2 linked regions of the Homo sapiens genome follow. The protein of the gene in region 1 purifies or fractionates together with the protein of each later gene. This does not show direct contact. Each region holds a gene or a part of one and is shown on either strand. Other genes may lie near its edges.

Region 1 (5,523 bases):
GAAACATGGTGAAACACCAACTCTACTAAAAATACAAAAATTAGCTGGGCATGGTGGCTCACTCCTGTAATCCCAGCTACTCGGGAGGCTCAGGCACAAGAACCGCTTGAACCCAGGAGGCAGAGGTTGCAGGAAGAGGAGATTGCACCCCTGCACTGCAGCCTGGGCGACAGAGCGAGACTCTGCCTCAAAAAAAAAAAAAAAAAAAAAAAAAAATCTGCATTTCAACAGAATCCCCAGCTCCCTCCTACGCACCTTTAAGTTTAAGAAGTGGTAGTCAAAGCCAAGTGTTCTCAAGGTGTGGCTGGAGACCAGTAGCTGTCACATCATCTGGGAACCTAGAAATGCAAACTCAGGCCAGGTGCGATGGCTCACGCCTGTAATCCCAGCACTTTGGGAAGCCGAGGCGGGTGGATCACATGAGGTCAGGAGTTGGGGACCAGCCTGGCCAACATGGCGAAACCCTGTCTCTGCAAAAAGTAAAAAAATTAGCTGGGTGTGGTGGCATGTGCCTGTAATCCCAGCTACTCCAGAGGCTGAGGCAGGAGAATCACTTGAACCCAGGAGGTGGAGGTTGCAGTGAGCCGAGATCGCGCCACTGCACTCCAGCCTGGGTGACAGAGGAAGAAAAGAAAGAGAAAGAAAGAAAGAAAAGAAAAGAAAGAAAGGAAGGAAGGAAGGAAGGAAGGAAGGAAGGAAGGAAGGAAGGAAGGAAGGAAGGAAAGAAAATGCAAATTCTGGAGCCCTTACTCCAGCCCTTTGCAATCAGAAACTCCAATGGTGAGGCCCAGGAAGCTGTGTTTTAACAGGCTCTACAAGTGATTCGGATGCAGACTAAAGTTTGAGAATCACCGACCTCGTTCTTAAAAATTGTTTTAAAATTAACTTGTTTTTCCTTTAGTTGTTAGGAGTTAGGATCCACTTTGTCATGTGAGTTTCAGGGGGAAAAATATGACTTTCTTTTTGTTTCTTTCTCTTTTTGAAAGGTGATGATCCAATGCCCTTTGACATTAAAGCTGAGATGACACTGAAGACAAATTTTTTTGCCACTAGAAACATGTGCAACGAGTTACTGCCGATAATGAAACCTCATGGTAAGCCCAACGTGTGGACAGTCGGGTTGCATCCCTCAGTAAGAAGTGGGCTACAGGCTTCCCGGAGCAGGGCTACCCTGCAGAAATCACTCAGGGGTGCTATTTCTCTGAAGGGGGAAAAATAGAAAATTGCTTCATTTTCCCACAGTGTTTGGCTTCTCACTCCAACATTTTAGTTTAGTTTAGTTTAGTTTAGTTTAGTTTTGTTTTGTTTGGCAGTGGGGTGGGTGGTGGGAAGAAATTTTGCTCTTGTTGTGCAGGCTGTAGTGCAATGGTGTGATCTTGGCTCACTGCAACCTCCACCTCCCGGGGTCAAGCAATTCTCCTGCCTCAGCCTCCCGAGTAGCTGAGATTACAGGCACCCACTACCACACCCGGCTAATTTTTTATATTTTTAGTAGAGACGTGGTTTCACCATGTTGGCCAGGCTAGTCCTGAACTCCTGACCTTCAGGTGATCCACCCACCTTGGCCTCCCAAAGTGTTAGAATTACAGGCGTGAGCCACTATGCCCAGCCTTAGCTTTAAGTTCCAAAGATAAGTGTGACATATCACAATGCTTTTGGGATCCATGTCATGAACTCAATCCTAGAATGATAGAATGCTGTGAGTCCCCAAAGGCCGCTTGCCTCTGGTCAATCTCATGAGTCCTCCAGCCCTCCAAGGTGATGGGCCCACATCTAGCTCATCTCTGGACCTTGGTATCTGTTTTAGCATTACAACTTTTCCTATATTCCTTTCTTCTTATACCATACTTTCTCAAGTTGATTCAGAAAACCCAAAAGAAATTTTCTTTTCTTTTTTTTTCTTTTCTTTTTTTTTTTTTTTTTTTGAGACAGAGTCTCGCTCTGTCATCCAGGCTAGAGTACAGTGGCACAATTTCGGCTCACTGTAGTCTCCGCCTCCCAGGTTCAAGCGATTCTCCTGTCTCAGCCTCTGGAGTAGCTGGGATTACAGGTGTGCACCACCACGCCCAGCTCATTTTGTATTTTTAGTACAGATGGGATTTCACTATGTTGGCCAGGCTGGTCTCAAACTCCTGACCTCAAGTGATCCACCCACCTCTGCCTCCCAAAATGCTGGGATTACAGGTGTGAGCCACCATGCCCGAACGAGAAATTTTCTTTATTAGGAAATGTCTTGCCTATACCTGCAGGTATTCAATAAATGTTACTATTATACTTTTCCTACAAACATTGGAGTGCCTGCCATATTCCAGGCATTATGCTGGGATCTGGGTGTGCAATGGTGAGCATTATAGACAGGGACCATCTCATTGGTGGAGCTGAAACTCTAGTGGGGGAGATATCCATTAGCAAAGAATCTGAAGTGTGAAATGACAGCTGTGCTGGGGTACAGGGAAGCTTGCTTCCTTGAGGATTTTATTCCCCAAGAAGTTAACTGTGGATTCTTAGAACTGTGGTTTTTATTAAAAATGTGCTTGCTTTTTCTTTTTTTTTTTTTTTTTTTGACAGAGTTTCGCTCTGTTGCCCAGGCTGGAGTGCAGTGACAGGATCTCAGCTCACTGCAACCTCCACCTTCTGGGTTCAAGGGATTCTCCTGCCTTAGCCTCCTGAGTAGCTGGGACTACAGGCGTGTGCCGCTACGCCCGGCTAATTTTTATATTTTTAGTAGAGACAGGGCTTTGCCATGTTGGCCAGGCTGGTCTCGAACTCCTGACCTCAAGTGATTCATCTGCCTCAGCCTCCCAAAGTGCTGGGATTACAGGTGTGAGCTACTGCACCTGGCCAGAAGTGTGCTTTTCTTAATTTAACATTTCGAATATGGATTATTGGCCGGGTGTGGTGGCTCATGCCTGTAATCTCAGCACTTTGGGAGGTTGAGGCAGGAGGATCACTTGAGCCCACGAGTTTAAGACCAGGCTGAAAAATATGGCAAGACCCTCATCACTTTAAACAAACAAACAAAATTATCTCTGGATGCAAAACCTTTTTTTTTTTTTTTTTTTTTTCTGAGACAGAGTCTCCCTCCGTCGCCCAGACTGGAGTGCAGTGGCATGAGCTCAGCTCGCTGCAACCTCCGCCTCTCAGGTACGAGAGATTCTCCGCCCCAGCCTCTCAAGTAGCTGGGTTTACAGGCGAGCACCACCACGCCCAGCTAATTTTTTTGTATTTCTAGTAGAGACAGGGTTTCACCATGTTGGCCAGCTTGATCTCGAATTCCTGACCTCAGGTGATCCACCCGCCTTGGCCTCCCAAAATGCTAGGATTACAGGCTTGAGCCACCGCACTCAGACGCAAAAAGTTCTTAACCTAAGAAGGTGAATGGTGAGAGTTGCACTTGTACTCTGTCAGTTTCTGAGTGGGATGAGATCATAGAAAGCCTGCAGGGAGAACTGCAGGTGCTTTGAAGGGGATGGAGTTTCTAAATGCAAATCTGAGCCAATATAAACGCACATTTTAAAAACTCTCCTTTTTACACAGAAGGTAACATTTCATACAATGTTTGCCACTTTGCTTTTTTTACTCCTTATGTCTGGGGCTCTCTCCAGGTTTGGTCAGAAAGCTTTTATCTTTTTTGTGGCTATATAGGGACGCAGCCATTATAGGGATGTCTTTTACCCAGTGTTGGGAAGTTTTCTCCCGATAAATTTTTGAATGGGAACTTGAGAGCTGCAAGGTATTAAGACACCTTTAAAACTCCATCCCCTTCCAGAGCACCTGCAGTTCTCCCTGCAGGCTTTCTCTGATCCCATCCCACTAAAAAACTGAGCAAGTACAAGAGTACAAGTGCAATTCTCACCATTCACCTTTTTAGGTTAAGAAGTTTTTGTGGCCGGGCACAGTGGCTCACACCTGTAATCCTAGCACTTTGGGAGGCCAAGGCAGGCAGACCACGAGGTCAGGAGATCGAGACCATCCTGGCTAACACGGTGAAACCCCATCTCTACTAAAAATACAAAAAAATTAGCCAGGCATGGTGGTGGGCACCTGTAGTCCCAGCTAGTCGGGAGGCTGAGGCAGGAGAATGGCATGAACCCGGGAGGCGGAACTTGCAGTGAGCCCAGATCGCGCCACTGCACTCCAGCCTGGGCGACAGAGCCACACTCCATCTCAAAAAAAAAAAAAAAAAAAGAAAGAAAGAAAGAAAAGAAAATATCATAAGAATGGACTTAATCCTGAGCAACATATGGAGACCCCAGCTCTACACAAAAAATGAAAATTAAAAATTAGCTGGGCATAGTGGCATGTTCCAGCTTCTCGAGAGACTGAGGTGGGAGGATCGCTTGGGCCCAGGAGGTTGAGGCTGCAGTGAGCTATGATTGTGCCACTGTACTCTAGCCTGGGCGACAGAGCAAGTCCTTGTCTCAAAAAAAAAAAAAAATGCATTTAACGCATCTGACCTACCAAACACCATAGGTCAGCCTCGTCTAGCTTCAAGGTGCTTTGAACGCTTACATTAGCCTATAGTCTGGCAAAGTCATCTAACACAAAGCCTATTTTATCATAAAATGTTGAGTATCTTATGTAATTTATTGAATCTGTACTGAAAGTGAAATGCAGAATGGTTGTATGGGGCCTCCAAGTACAGATTCTGCAGAATGCATATCGCTTCCTCATCCATCAGTGAAGTCAGTAAGTCCTAAGTGGAACCATCAGAGGGCAGGGACCATCTATCTGTATTTGACTTGCTTATTTGTTCAAGGTTCTGAGTCAATAGGACAAGCAACTACTAAGCCACTAGAGGGCGCAACTTGCCTACTCTTTCTAGAGTAAGGCAGCAGGTGTTTCGGGACCGGTGGGGCCACCTGGACCTCAGTGGAGGGTGGTGTGGGTGCAGCCCTTCCCAGGGCTGATGACGCATCTGGCTGACGAGGCTGACTGTCAGCCTCTGGCCTCTCTCCCAGAGGTGTGCCCTCAGATCAAAGAGGACACCTCCTCCCCTTAAGAGGATTTATTTCCTCGAAGGCACAGCTTCTATGATCTGTGTTTTTCTTTCTTCCTTTCCCATTCACATTTAATTCCTTGTAGCCGCCAAGTTTCTGAGAACAAAGCTGTTTAGAAAGCAATGAAGAACACAACATCACTGATGTAGTATTCCTGGCCAAAATATTGATGTGACTCTCCTCATGAGAACAGACCAATTCACTTTGAGAGAAATACTACAAAATAATGGTCTACAGTCTTCAAAAAAGTCATTGCCAACTACCTTACATTAAAATATATGAAAGAGATGTGACAATTAAATGCAATCCATGGGCCAGGTGCGGTGACTCACGCCTGTAATCCCAGCACTTTGGGAGACCAAGGCGGGCGGATCATGAGGTCAGGAGATTGAGACTATCCTCGCTAACACGGTGAAACCCCGTCTCTACTAAAAATACAAGAAATTAGCCAGGCATGGTGGCAGGCGCCTGTAGTCCCAGCTACTTGGGAGACTGAGGCAGGAGAATGGCATGAACCCGGGAG
Region 2 (3,500 bases), on another chromosome or scaffold:
TGTAAATACATCTATAAAACATTAAAACAATAATAAGGTATATCCCACCTCCTCTCCAATCTTTCTCCCTTTCCCAGATGTAGTAACTGTTACCATACTGATGTTTATACTTTCCAAACTTTTACTTCACATACACATTCATATACTACAATGCCTTTGTTTGCAGTTCAGAATAATTCATTTTCTTATATTCTATTGTTGAAGTTCCACACATTTCTGCATATTTTATTTTTAACCTAGCTAGACAGTCTTACAAAGTGAACCTTTGTCCATAGCCCACATTAAACTATGAATAGATTTTGGAAAAAAAAAAAAAAAAACCATAGGGTCTATTAGGGCTAATTAAAAAGAATGATTTTTGATTGCAGGAGGCTTAAACAGTGCTTCCTATGCTTCTGAGACATTCCAGAGGGAGCATAAGAAACTGAAGGAGAATATAGGTTATCTGCCCTTGTAGCTGTCTGTCAGTCACTATTTATTAGAGCTGACTATGTTCTGGGTAGGAATGCTTTACATGTATTAGCTCATTTAATATTCACAGTAACCCTATAAGGTAAGAAACATTATTAAATGTGCAAAGTGTGACTTAGAGAGATTAAACCATTCGCCCAAGGTCACATAACTAAAAAGTAGCAGAGCTAAAATTTAAACCTTGTTCAACTCAAAGCTTGTATACGTAATCCAGACTTTTTGATTTCAGACCACTCTCCCCTTCTTTTCTTTTAGTTTCCACAACAGACTCTTCTGTCCCCCTACCCCCCTCCCCCAACCAAGTGAAATCTTTATGCCACTACCAAAAACCTATAAAAGCGGCCAAGCCTCTTCCAGCTCCTTTCTAGTCCTTAATACTGACAGTAATGAGAGGCTGCCCTGGGGAACCCAGATTCTAGGAACATAATCTGAAGAAAGACAGTCCGGATGCTAGTTCTACAAAATCCTTTGGATTTATGCTTCTCATCCTCATATTTTAAAAGCTCAACTAAAGCAGCTTAATTTCATTTAGCAGAGAATTGCTGAACTAAACTGGATAAGAGTTCTACTTTCATTCTTTAAGTGTTCATGATAAATTAGCATTAGATGTATATGGATTATATTTTACTCTTAAGAGTCTCCAAAAATTCATTTAAGATGAATGGAAAAATGTCCTTATCAGTTTTATTCTCCCAATCCAAGAGTTTTAAAAGTTGTCAGTCCAGCTAAAGGTAATCCATTTTCATGGATTTAAAGATTTGTTCTGTTTGTGGCTCAGATTCTTACATAATGATTTAGAAAACGCAAACAAATGACATTGTCTCCAACTCGATAATCCTTTTTGGAAATACACAAGGTATGTGAAAAAAACTTCCATAGCCATGATTACATTACCTTTTGTAAAATTCGAAAGGCTATCTAACGCTGCAGAATTTTGGATGTGGAATGAACCTCAGAAATTCTCCCTCTGACTTCCCTCTTTCAAAGATGAGGAAACTGAGTACCTGTGGTAAATCACCTGTCAAATTAGAATGAGGTTAAGCCAGGACTCATGTTTTGGGTTTTCACTTCCAGATCTCGTGTGCTTTCCTTTTTGCTAAGTTCTCAACATCAAACTAGTCAAGTCTTTCATGCCTCATTCATTCATTTTTCAACAAATAGAGTAGGAACAAAATAACCATGTTTTATCTTCATGAAACTAACGGCATAGTGACTACCAACTTTGACAAGACCGTTCCATTTTGACTCTGTATTTTTGTTGTTGTTATTTTTGTTTGTTTGTTTGGTTGGTTGGTTGTTTGCAGAGACAAGGTCTCACTATGTTGCCCTGGCTGGTCTCGAGTTTCTGGGCTCAAGGGAGCGTCCCAAAGTGTTGACATTTCAGGTGTGAGCCACCCACTGTGCCCAGCCTTGACTCTCTATTTTATGATTATATGCATTTGAACAATTCCTTGCATTATTCTTTAATAACAGTAGCTTTTCTAATAACTATGACTTAAATGGCATTAATATTGCTGGGCATGGTTCTAAGAGCTTTAAGTACATTACACATTTAAATCATCATACACAGGCTGGGCGCGTTGGCTCACGCCTGTAATGCCAGAACTTTGGGAGGGTTAGGCAGGCAGATCACTTAAAGTCAGGAGTTCGAGACCAACCTGGCCAACGTGGTGAAACCCTGTCTCTACTAAAAATACAAAAATGAACCAGGTGTGATGGCAGGCGCCCATAATCCCAGCTACTCAGGAGGCTGAAGCAGGAGAATCGCTTGAACCAGGGAGGCGGAGGTTGTAGTGAGCTGAGGTCTCGCCACTGCACTCCAGCTGGGATGACAGAGTGAGACTCCATCTCAAGGAAAAAAAAAAATTATCATATATAAAAATACCTGAGATAGGTACTTTTATTATTGTGATTTCATAGATGAAGAAACTGAGGTGTACAGAAGTTGAAGAACTTGCCCCAAGTCACATAGCTAGTTAGTGACAGGATCAGGGTTTGGATCCCAGCACCAGGCTCCAGAGTCTGTGTCCTTAATCTCTATACATCCCGAATGCCTGTCAACATTAAATAATCCAGGGTGAAGTTCAGAGAAGTGAAATGATATGACTTCTCTGGCCTCCTCCTTTCTCTAATAACTGCAGGAACAAAGGAAAGGTTTTTAGTCTGGTTACAATGTTTACTCTAGCAGAGCTGAGAAGTTAAATTAAGCTCCTCTGAAGTGCTTATTCTTCACAACTATTTCATAAACAGCATCCCTTTACATTTGTTTTCCTTTTACTGTTCTATTTTGCCTGCTTAAAGTATCCAAATTGGAATAACAAAGGCCCTTTTCTTATGGGAAACTTTCGATGTCTTCTCAGAGGGATAACATTATTGAGCAGCACCGTTCAAAGCACTTTACTCAGGTAACTCTCACAATCCTTCATTATGCCCATTTTATAGCCAAGGAAACTGAGGGTCAGAGGTTAACTGATTTGTTAAAAATCGTAGACCTAGGAAGAGGTATAGCCAGAATTCAAATTCAGGTAGTTCGTTTACCAGCAGCAGTCTTTCCATTTGCGTCACTGGAGTGCACTGCGATGATGCCAATACTGTTGCAGGATTGGCTCTACTGAATTGGAAACTACTTGTGAAGACAACCCAAAGAGGTGTTTTGTTGTTGTTGTTGTTGATGTTGTTATAGCCTTAGCTATGAAGAGGTAGATTCTCCAAGTCACTACTGAGAGCGGTAGGAATGCTTTCTAACAAATCTGAAGTCTGCTTTAGATTTTTTCAAGATATGTTTGATCATGCTTCCCGGAACACGGCGGAGACTCCAGTGGCTGCTACTGTGCTTTCTTCGGAATGGCTAAAATCTAAGCTGTTTGAGTTCCTCTTGAGCCTGCGCCCACAACACAGCACATGGTCCCAGTGACACTGCATTGTTACATTAGTACTGCTTATTCCTCTGTAGCTCCCACAGGGCAGGAAGGTTTTTTGTTTTGTTGTTTTTTCATACAGTCTCACTCTGTCACCCAGGCTGGAGTGCA

Evidence for each region. The genes of interacting proteins can lie anywhere in the genome.
Region 2: the proteins of CBR3 (region 1) and SGK1 purify together in Homo sapiens (co-immunoprecipitation; one large-scale study listed by IntAct). This does not show direct contact.

Annotation. Positions count from the first base shown.
Region 1 is NC_000021.9:36,136,839-36,142,361, forward strand, and holds part of CBR3 (carbonyl reductase [NADPH] 3), read left to right. Parts: intron 1-986; coding exon 987-1,094; intron 1,095-4,557; exon of another isoform or gene 4,558-5,085; coding exon of another isoform or gene 5,086-5,126; exon of another isoform or gene 5,127-5,306; intron 5,307-5,523. UniProt on the Homo sapiens protein: Catalyzes the NADPH-dependent reduction of carbonyl compounds to their corresponding alcohols. Has low NADPH-dependent oxidoreductase activity.
Region 2 is NC_000006.12:134,311,613-134,315,112, reverse strand, and holds part of SGK1 (serine/threonine-protein kinase Sgk1), read left to right. Parts: intron 1-3,500. UniProt on the Homo sapiens protein: Serine/threonine-protein kinase which is involved in the regulation of a wide variety of ion channels, membrane transporters, cellular enzymes, transcription factors, neuronal excitability, cell growth, proliferation, survival, migration and apoptosis.